3 linked regions of the Homo sapiens genome follow. The protein of the gene in region 3 interacts with the protein of the main gene of each other region in a biochemical or structural test. Each region holds a gene or a part of one and is shown on either strand. Other genes may lie near its edges. The genes, in order: POFUT3, FBXO8 and POLI.

What was found.
Region 1: the proteins of POLI (region 3) and POFUT3 form a complex in vitro, tested with the Homo sapiens proteins (one large-scale study listed by BioGRID).
Region 2: the proteins of POLI (region 3) and FBXO8 form a complex in vitro, tested with the Homo sapiens proteins (one large-scale study listed by BioGRID).

Annotation. Positions count from the first base shown.
Region 1 is NC_000008.11:33,389,499-33,393,154, forward strand, and holds part of POFUT3 (GDP-fucose protein O-fucosyltransferase 3), read right to left. Parts: intron 301-3,656; coding exon 1-300. UniProt on the Homo sapiens protein: Protein O-fucosyltransferase that specifically catalyzes O-fucosylation of serine or threonine residues in EMI domains of target proteins, such as MMRN1, MMRN2 and EMID1. Attaches fucose through an O-glycosidic linkage.
Region 2 is NC_000004.12:174,273,656-174,277,311, forward strand, and holds part of FBXO8 (F-box only protein 8), read right to left. Parts: intron 1-3,656. UniProt on the Homo sapiens protein: May promote guanine-nucleotide exchange on an ARF. Promotes the activation of ARF through replacement of GDP with GTP.
Region 3 is NC_000018.10:54,275,892-54,279,547, reverse strand, and holds part of POLI (DNA polymerase iota isoform a (long)), read right to left. Parts: intron 1,846-3,656; coding exon 1,693-1,845; intron 1-1,692. UniProt on the Homo sapiens protein: Error-prone DNA polymerase specifically involved in DNA repair. Plays an important role in translesion synthesis, where the normal high-fidelity DNA polymerases cannot proceed and DNA synthesis stalls. Favors Hoogsteen base-pairing in the active site.

The sequences.
Region 1 (3,656 bases), on a different chromosome or scaffold from region 3:
CTGATGGTGGGTCACAGTCTGACTGTACATACACCAGCGGAGCAAGTCTTTTTCTAAGCTTGTTTTTGGACTGCAAAGGAACTAGGTATCGGAGTGACTTCAGGACTTCAATGCTCTCCAAGTATTGGGTAGTTAGTGGCAAGTGGGAATGCCTGCTGAACGTGGCAGTGTAGTTGAACAAGGTGATCACTGGTTTATGAAAGAGCTTATAATTGTTTTTCGGGGACTCTTCATGAAAAACAGCCCAGTCATGATGGGCTTTCCGAGGCAGAGGTAAGCTATCTATGTTAAAGTCAGTACCTAGGAGAAGAAAATGAGATATTAATTAGTATTTCCAAAAGATGTTGCTAAGTTTGGGTCTACCTGGTAAGATTAGAATACAGAGGAGTCTGAGGCTATGAATAAGAAGCATGTGGCCGGGCACGGTGGCTCACGCCTGTAATCCCAGCACTTTGGGAGGCCAAGGCAGGTGGATCACTTGAGGTCAGGAGTTCGAGACCAGCCTGGCCAACATGGTGAAACCCTGTCTCTGCTAAAAATACAAAAATTAGCTGGGCATGGTGGCACATTGCCTGTAATCCCAGCTACCTGGGAAGCTGAGGCAGGAGAATCACTTGAACCCGGGAGGTGAAGATTGAGCCACTGCACTCCAGCCTGGGTGACAGAGCAAGACTCTGTCTCAAAATATATGTGTGTGTGTGTGTCATACACACACACACACACACACATGAAGCATGTTACAGTGTCACTGCAAAGTGCCTGGCAGTCAGTCACAAAGCTTTCACCCCAGAAACTACTGAGGGAGAGGATCACCAAAGAGGGGGACTATCATTTCTCATTTTACGAAAAAGGAAACAGGAGTCGTGTCTGGCCAGGTTCTAAAGGAGAATTTATTCCACTGCCTCTTGCAATGGGCTTTTCTTCCTGAAAAGTGTTACCTACAAGTAAATAGGAGAAATAAAGAGATAAAGACAGTTCTTTAAAAAGAAAAGAGCAAGAGAAAGGAAGCCAAAAAAGGAAAGCAACCAGGTCAGCAGGTTGATTAACTGCAAAAAAAAAAAAAAAAAAAAGTGAAACCATGCAAAAGTAGCCAGAAGAAATGTAGAAGATAGATTTTTTTAATCCAAAATGATTGATTTCAGCAAAGTGCAGTTAATCAATCTTAGTCAAAATGGTAGACAAGAGGCTTTTAAAGACGAAAGAGCTGATAATAGCACTATGTTACAGACCACTGCAGGATGGACAGGAATTAACAAGCTCATGGAGAAATAAAGAAGGCCTAACAGGATTACAATTATGAGTGACCCTAGCATCCACGGGATTAATTGAAAAACCTCTGAAACATGATGATGTGCAGACAGAAGTGATGGATGTGGTAAGCGATTGTTTCCTGGCTGCATGGGTGGAGATCCAATCAGGGAGAACTTATTTCAATAACTGAGAAAGAAGAACTAAGACAATAACACAATAGGTAATATACAATTTCTGAAGTATTCTTGACATGGATAATTTTGTAGACCCTTGAGTTTTTTTAAAATAAATATAAGGAAACGGGAAAAAATTCATCTTCCAATACCCACTGGAAAAGAAAATACCGAATATATATTTATGCCAAAATAAAACTTTATCAACATTTTCTGGCAGAGCTCATAAAAATTAATTATTTAATGCCAGTGTACACTCCCACAAATAAAGATAAACTCTTCAGTGCCAACACTACATCAATGAGAAATCAATTAATCAAGAAAGGCTTTTAAACAAAGATCAGATAAGGTTATGTCACAGGACATATACTAAGCACAGAGAAATTGCTGAAGAAAGTGCCTCTGTTTTGATAGCAGGCTTTTATTCTCAATCTTTGGCAATGACGTACTAACGTAAAAATGGGCTTGTCCTTGTTTATTGGCATTTGCTATATTTGACCTTAGGCTTAAAAAAGAACACTCACCCATATACCTGAAATCTAATGGCATATAAAGTTGGATGGCTGGCAAAGGTTAATAATCATTAAGATAGAGAAACATGAGGATATGAAAGAGAATGTGAGAAGAAAGGCAAATGACTGCATTGAAGTACAACAGCTGCTGCTCAAAAAGGGTCTAAGCTGGCTGAGAGGCCAATGATAGGAACCAGAACCTATATAATTGAGTTAGAACACAAAGTTGCCACCTAAGGCATACAGAGAATCAAGGCCATTTGCCTGGGAGAGAAAGTACTAGAGTCCAGTCCACAGGAATCAGAAGCAGGGATTCAAGGTGTGAGATGAGAGATTAAAGAGGATATGATTAAAACAAAAGTGGGTCCAGAATTAACTGGGGGGATCAGGCACAGGGGATTTGAGTGAGTGACCCAAACACCAGTCACTGTCTGCTGCTACCTGCTAGGTGGCACATGGAAGATTCTTAACCTAGCTCAGCATGGGTGCACCTCAGCAAAGATACCAGATGCAGAGCTGGGAAGCAGAAAGACACAAAGCCTGCCTCAGGTGCATTCAGATGAATGCTCTCCTGCATTCATCTGAATTATGTTTAGTCTGCAGGGGTGCAGCTGCCTTTAATAGTGGGAGATGCTTATTAATAGAGAGGAAAGTTAAAGGGACCTAGCCTTCCAGAAATATTTCCCATGTTTGCTATCTATAAAAGCATTTCCTGGTAACTTCCCTGAGATACATCCACACAAAACACAACCACACATGCGTGCGCATGTGTGCAATCACGCTAATATAGGTTTTCTGTAAGATTGTCAGATGCTTTCAAACTAAACTTCTCTGGAGAAGATTGAAAATAGGTCATTTTGGCATGGCACAATGGCTCACACCTATAATCCCAGCACTTTGGGAGGCCGAGGCAGGCAGATTACTTGAGGTCAGGAGTTCGAGACCAGCCTGGCCAACATGGTGAAACCCCATCTCTACTAAAAATACAAAAATTAGCCAGGCATGGTGGCACATGGTAGTAGTAATCCCAGCTACTCGGGAGGCTGAGGCAGAAGAATTGCATGAACTGGGGACGCAGAGGTTGCAGTGAGCCAAGATCACATCACGATACTTCAGCCTGGGTGACAGAGCGAGACTCTGTCTCAAAAAGTAAAAATAAATAAAATAAATAAAAACACGTCATTTTGCCCTGCAAGCATCTCTCCTAAGCCTAGAGCTTCAGACGGTAAGTGCTGAAGAATACTGAAATTAGAACCATGACCAACCTGGCCAGGCATGGTGGCTCACACCTGTAATCCCAGCACGTTGTGGGGCTGAGGTGGGTGGATCACCTGAGGTCAGGAGTTCAAGACCAGCCTGGCCAACATGGTGAAACCCCGTTTCTACTAAAAATTCAAAAATTAGCTGGGCATGGTGGTGCATGCCTATAATCCCAGCTACTCAATGCTGAGAAGGAGAATCGCTTGAACCTGGGAGGCAGAGGTTTCAGTGACCCAAGATTGCACCACTGCATTCCCTCCTGGGCGACAGAGTGAGACTCTGTCTCAAAAACAAAACAAAACAAAACAAAAAAAGAACCATGACCAACCTAAACTACTTCACTGGGGATATCATGGCCTAGAACATAAGTGTCAATATTGAACAATTTCTAAAAGGTATTGGATGTGGCTCAGAAAAAAACTGAGTTATTTAGCTCTCCCCAACTCCATCGCAATGCCTA
Region 2 (3,656 bases), on a different chromosome or scaffold from region 3:
TATGTCTATACAGATGGAACAATAAGGTGATGTGGCAAAATATTAAAAATTTGTAAACCTGGCTAAAAAGTATTCAAGGGTTATTTTTATTCCTCTAACAATTTTTTTGTAACTACAAATCTCCTAGTTGTGGAATCCAGGCATGTAAATTTGAAAAAGATGTGTGTTTGAGTTTATGTACTCAGTTTAAGAATTATTATTATTATTATTACCTTAGGGCTCAGTGTAATACAGACTGAAGACCATTACTAAAGAAATAGTGGTCCAGAGAGGTTAAGCAAATTTGCCTGAGAAGTCAAAGCTGGAAAAATGGAAGATTTAGGATTCAAACTCAGTTCTATCTGAGTCCAAAGCTTTTATTCTTAACCCACAAACCATATTCCCAGAACCGCTGGAGCCCATGGATGACAAAAGCAATTTACCATCTGTTTCTTCACCACTGGTTCTCATCTCTTTTTACCCCGTCACTGTTTATTACCTCCATCGTTGGTCCCAGCTGCAGCTGCTCTTTCAGGCTACTGCTGTTCTTGTGGAAAGCACACAGGCTTTGATGTGAAGAAAGATCAGCATCAAACCCCAACACGGAATCTGATTAGCCTGTGATTTCTGATCCTCATTCTTCTCATTAGTAAAATAACGGATAATAATTCTTATTCCATGGGACTTAGTAGGGATAACATTTATGGAACTTAACCCATAGTAGGTAGTTTACAATAAAAGGTAGTTTCGTACTCATCCCTCTCGCCCTCTTTAAATGATAACTATTATTTTGGTTCCTTCATTTCAAATACACCTGATAACTGTGGATTAATTACCTGAGTAGTCATAATCCTGGTCCTGAATTTCATTAATTTGGGATCTGTGAAATTTGGAGAGATGCCATTTACATAGCAAGGCCATAGTTCCAACACGCACTAGTTTCAGTTAACATGGTAAAATGCAAAATGATGACTGTAAGTACTAAAATAAGGAACTGACTCCACACAATAGGTTACATGAATAAACCCAGTATCAAACACAGTGCCTTGGCATATAAAGTGCTCAGAAAATATTTGTTGAATGAATAAACGATTAGTAAGCACTGATTTTAAAAAAAATGAATTACATGAACCTTGACCTAAACCTTACACCTTTTACAAAAATTAACTCAAAATGGACCATAGACTTAAACGTAAAACATAAAACTATAAAAATTTTAGAAAAATACATAGAAGGAAATCTTTGGGGTCTAAGGCTAGGCCAAGAATTCCCAGACTTATATCAAAAGGATGATCATGAAAGTAAAAATTGATCGAATTCATCAAAATAAAAAATTTTTGCTCTTTGAAAGTCTATATTTGGAAGATGAAAGGAAAGCCTACAGATTGAGAGAAAATATTTGTAAACCACATATCTGACGGACGAGTATCTAGAATATATAAACAACTCTCAAAACAATAGTAAACAAAAACCAAACAATCCAATATAAAAATGGGCAAAAGATATAAACACACGTTTCATGAAAGAGGATATACAAATGGCAAATAAGCACATGGTAAGATGGTCAACATCATTAGCCAGGAGAGAGGTGCGTACGGTTATAAAAGCACAGTGTGAGAGATCCCTGTGGTGTTACAACTATTTACTATCTTGACTATGGTGCTGGATATGTGAACTTGCACAGAACTTCATACACACACATATGTACACTGAGTAAAAATAAAACTAGGGGAATATGAGTAAGATGGGGGATTGTATCAATGTCAAAATCCTGGTTTTGATAGTATATTATAGTTACAAAACTATTACCAATCAGAGAAACTAGGTAAAGTGTACAAGGGATGACTCTATATTTCTTGAGACTGCATGTACATCTACAATTATCTTAAAAAATCATAGAAGGATGGAAAAAAACAAAAAAAGTTTAAAAAAGGATAGGCAACTGCACATTTAAAGTGAATGAATTTTATTGTATGTAAATGATACCTTAATAAAGATGTTTTATAAAAAGGAATTAGAAACTCTAATGAATGCTTTAAAGAGGGTGAGCAAAGACATGGGAAGTCTACCATCATTTCACAAATAGTAACTATTTTAGATTTTGGGAATCCAACTAATTGTGAAAAATCTACAACCTATGAATCATCTCTCACTTCAGGTAAATTTGAATACATATGGATCAAAAGAAGATGGAATTAAGGAATACAAATCCTTATAGACACAAATCCTAAATGATGTTTTGACCACTTACATAGGATATATAAACAACAGAGTAAGGTACAAATGCAAAAAGGATCGATATTTGTGTAACTCTTAGTCTAATAAAAAAGACAATGTACATATAAAATACATTAATTAGAAAATTGGTATAATTACTTATTTAAAAACAAAGTAATAAGCTATATGAATTAATTTGGATTGCTACAAATATTATATTTCTAATATCTGTAGAAAAATGCTTCTACTTATTAAAATACATTAAAATTGGTAAATTTTATTTAGAATCTCCTATATTCTTATATGCCCTTGTTTCCATTAAAATAACAATAGCAATATTAACAGTAATACTTTTATTACATATTGACCAAATATTTATTTGACAGAGCCAACTTGTTTTTTCTGAGTTGGAGTCTTGCTCTGTTGCCCAGGCTGGAGTGCAGTGGAACAATCTCGGCTCACTGCAACCTCTGCCTCCTGGGTTCAAGCGATTCTCCTGCCTCAGTCTCCCGAGTAGCTGGGACTACAGGCGCGCACCGCCATGCCTGGCTAATTTTTGTATTTTTAGTAGAGACGGAGTTTCACTATATTGGCCAGGCTGGTCTTGAACTCCTGACTATGTGATCCGCCTGCCTCGGCCTCCCAGAGTGCTAGGATTACAGGCATGAGCCACTGTGACTGCCTGACAGAGCCAATTTTTAAAAAAAATTTAAATATATTTAGATTTTGTTTTGTTTTGTTTTTTTGAGAGGGAGTCTCGCTCTGTCAACAGACTGGAGTGCAGTGGCGTGTAGATCTTTGGTTTTTAAAAATTAATTTGTCCACTTTCAGTTTTATTATGCTAATTTCAGCATAAATAAATAAAACTGAAATCTCTAAAGTGGGCTATATACTATAATCTCTGTTTTACAGTAATGTAGAAGTTTTTTGACACTACTACTGTGGAGGATGAATTTAAAGGTGGAGCTCCAATTACGCTGTAACTTGCTGTGTGACCTTAGGTATTTCAAACAAGGTTCTGATCTTTTGTTTCCTATAAAATGGGGGAAATCATTCCTATCTATTTTACAGGGTGGCTATGAGCCTTAACTAAGAGAATGTATATAAAAGCATCTTTTAATTGGTAAAGCAGTATGTAGTTTCTGAAACAGCTATATTGTTCTGACATAATTTTGGATGTATTTTTTTTAAAGTAGCAGTTTTAGTCTAACCAAGTCTGTTACAACAGCATAAAAGCGCTTCCACTTAAAAGCAGTACAAACTATGGATTAACTACAAATAATTACACATTTATTAAAATTTATAAGAACAATAATAGTTTTCTATACTTTTTAACTTCTAGAAGATCGTTACATTTCTAAGAGATGGTATTTTTGACTACTATGTTTTGTTTCCTATTCAAAATAGTAGACTATTTCTTAAAAAGACTAAAATACAAGTTTTATTAATATTTTGTATCT
Region 3 (3,656 bases):
TAATGGGCCAGGAGTAGTGGCTCATGCCTATAATCCCAGCACTTTGGGAGGCCAAGGCAAGCGGATCATCTGAGATTAGGAGTTCAAGACCAGCCTGGCCAACATGGTGAAACCCCGTCTCTACTAAAAATAAAAAAATTAGCCGGGTGTAGTGGCACATGCCTGTAGTCCCAGCTAGTCGGGAGGCTGAAGCAGGAGAATTGCTTGAACCCAGGAGGTGGAGGTTGCAGTGAGCCGAGATCACATCACTGCACTCCGGCCTGGGCGACAGAGTGAGACTCTGTCTCAAAAAAAAAAAAAAAAAAAGAAAAGACATAATGGGTATTTTTTGTACTATTCTGTCAACTTTTCTGTAGGTTTACAAAAAATTTTAATAAAATCTGTATGAAAGAGGAAGAATTAATCAATAATTCCACATTTCCCTTTTTGGGATATAAAACCTAGCTCTCTATAATGTACTCTAACCAATAAAATCCAAGTTTGCCTTAAAAATTATACAGAAATATATTTGAAATATTCTTGCTAGTTAGCCCTTTTAAGTTACAAATGAGCACAAGTACAAAAGATACAGGAAAAGCTCCATGTATTCTAGAAACTGTGGTTCTACTGCTTTTCTTCTGTGGAGAACTATTCTGTAGACCGATGTCTAGTTCTCAAAAAAGAGGATAAGAGGAAATGCATGGGGAGGCTTAAGAGCAAAAGGGTCAGACAAGTCTTACACAACAGCAGAGTACCTTGTCTTGTATGTGGTATGATAGGGGAGTCACCAGCAGAGTCATAAGATGTCTGAAAGCCTAATCAGATATTCACTGGTGCTTACTGCAGCTTATTTTCAAATGTAAATATCACTGGAAACACCATCAGTCATTCATATCTCAATATATGAAGGAGACAAACCATTCTGCTTTCTTGCTAACTTTGACAAAGATTATTTGAACAGATTAAATAGGAGCTTGGAGAAGATTCTAGCACATGGCAGATAGCCCTGGACAACATTCCAAAAGTGCTAACTTGGGAATTCAGAGAGCAACATGAGGGTCTCAGGGGAATCGAAGTGAACATGTAAAACACACATCAAAGGGGAATCGAAGGGAACATGTAAAAGACACATCAAAGGCAAATCTAGCCTACCTGAAAACTCTGCTTAGAGATTGTTTTAGAATAATAAAAAATTATTCCAAAAAGCATATTAAGAAGCCAACTCTTACAACTTAAGAATGACCTACAGAGGTATGGCTTTTTGTTTCCTTAAGAGATGGGATCTTGCTCTGTTGCCTAGGCTGGACTCAAACTCCTGGGTTCAAGCAATCTTCTCAGCTCAGTCTCCCAAACAGCTGGGACTACAGGGGCGCTCCACTGTGCCCAGCTGGGTATGGCTTTCTAAAATGGGAACCAATGCACTGTGTCAGACGAAAACTCTGCACAGATGAATGCTCTGTGCAGATGAACAGGAACAATGCTCTGTGCAAATGAAAAGTGCACAGAGCATTGAGCTACATGTCATCAAAATCTTAACACTTATTATGGAATAGCAGCACCTAATTTTAGCTGTCCTAGACAGATTACTGACTAAATATAACTATACCTCCAACAAAAGTCATGAATCTTTCAGAATCACACAGCGAACTCACTGAACATTAAGAAATGTATGTACTTTTGGTTAGTAGGTAGAATGAATAAGAACCCACTCACACTGATTATTGTATACATGACCCGACACAGTCACCGCAGAAAGTTCATCACTTTGCAGCTGCTGTAGTCTCTTCTCAACCATTTCTGTTAGATCCACAAAATTTTCATCAAATCCAAGTCTCTCAACAACTGGACTAAATTCTTCCAGTAATTCTAAATTGAAATAATATTGGAGCACAAATGTAAATGAAGTTATAACTAGGATAAATTTAACTATCTAGTGCTTAAAAATTTATCAAATTTATTGTTAAAGGTTTTATATACATTCATAGTTCCATAATATCTTTAATAAAGCCCTCAGTTAATTGACGTTTTTTCTGTACCACATCTTGTATAAAGGCAATATTTTCAAAAAAGTCTAAAAATGACATTCCTAGGGCAGTTATTCATGGCAATATATCTAGCTCAATCTTCTACACCTATAATTTTTATATCTGTAGTACATTAAATATCAATGCTTATAGTAAATTGGTGACCTTGAAGAAATGTGTCAAAGAATAAACTATAGGCTGCTCAGGAAAGTTAAAAACAAGTAATAGTATATTTTAGCTATATTTTCTCCAAGAGTTTAAAAGAGGCAAAACAAAATAATATTTAAAATGTCCAATTATTACTGAATAAAACAGAAAGTCAGTCAACTTTCAAAATATACTATAACGTGGTATTTTTATTAGCCATTCCCAAGAATATTCCTTAGGACAGAGAGGCAGAGATGAACCACAACTTACAGGTATTCAAATGCCCAGCGTCTAGCACAATATCTAGTCCTCAAGTCAAATGTTTACTAGATTAAGCTGAACCAAAATTCAAAATAAATTCAAAAAAACTATCAATTTTCATATATTAACATTGAGACTAATAACTTTAAAATCATTGAGAAAGTTTTTCACTTCCCTCTGAATCACTTTCTACTGACACCAGCTGGATAAGAGAAAACAAATGCAAGTCTCTTAGTATACAAAAATGCATAGATTCTTAAGGTCATATAATCTGAAGCTCAGAAATAAAAGGACTATCTCATTCCACATAGATCATGTTTTTTCACAAACACCAAAGGTGCTTTTTTGTTTTGTTGATGTCAACATTGACAATGTGAGGGGAAACCAATAAAGGTAACAATGTGACATGGCAAACACCAAAAATCACTCCTGAGAAAACTATTACCTAGAGAAAACTATTACCTCCTTTCAGGACAGACTGACAATATGTCTAATCAAAGAAAATGATTGTTTTGCATTTCCTTCATCAATTTCGGCAATTTATTTTCAAAAGTATATACCTGATATGCAAAGTAACATGTAGAAAACAAGAGTTTATCAAAAGAATACTACATAAGAAAAATAAAGGATAAGGCTTTAAGCACTAAATAGAAAAGCAAGTTAAATACAGAATCATGCACGAAGCTGGTGGATCACTAAATATTGACTGATTTTAGGTCACAGGACAAATCCCTAATTATCCCGTCCCTGAAGGTTTTTGTTGTTGCTGTAGTTTTAATGAGACAGGGTCTCACTGTTGCCCAGGCTGGAGTGGAGTAGCACACCACAGCTCAGTACAGCCTTGACCTCCTGGGCCCAAGCAATCCTCCTACCTCGGCCTCTGGGACTGCAGGCACATGCTACCAGCTAACTTTTTTTTTTTTTAACTTTTGTAGAGACAGGGTCTTGCTATGTTATATTGCCCAGACTGACCTCAAATGATACCCCACCACAGCCTCCCAAAGTGTTGGGATTACAGGCATAAGCCACCATGCCCAGCCTCCATTCCTGAAGTTAACCTCTTTCTTGGTATCAACTTCATAAGCAAGATACATTTATTAAACATATAATTATATAGGGCCCAAAAGAGGAGTCTGTAATTACAGAAAAAAAAAATACCTTGAAGAAAGGTATATATGCAGTAGCATCAAAATATGAAATAAATAATAAGGTTATAAACAGATCAGAGATAAATACAGTAAAGGA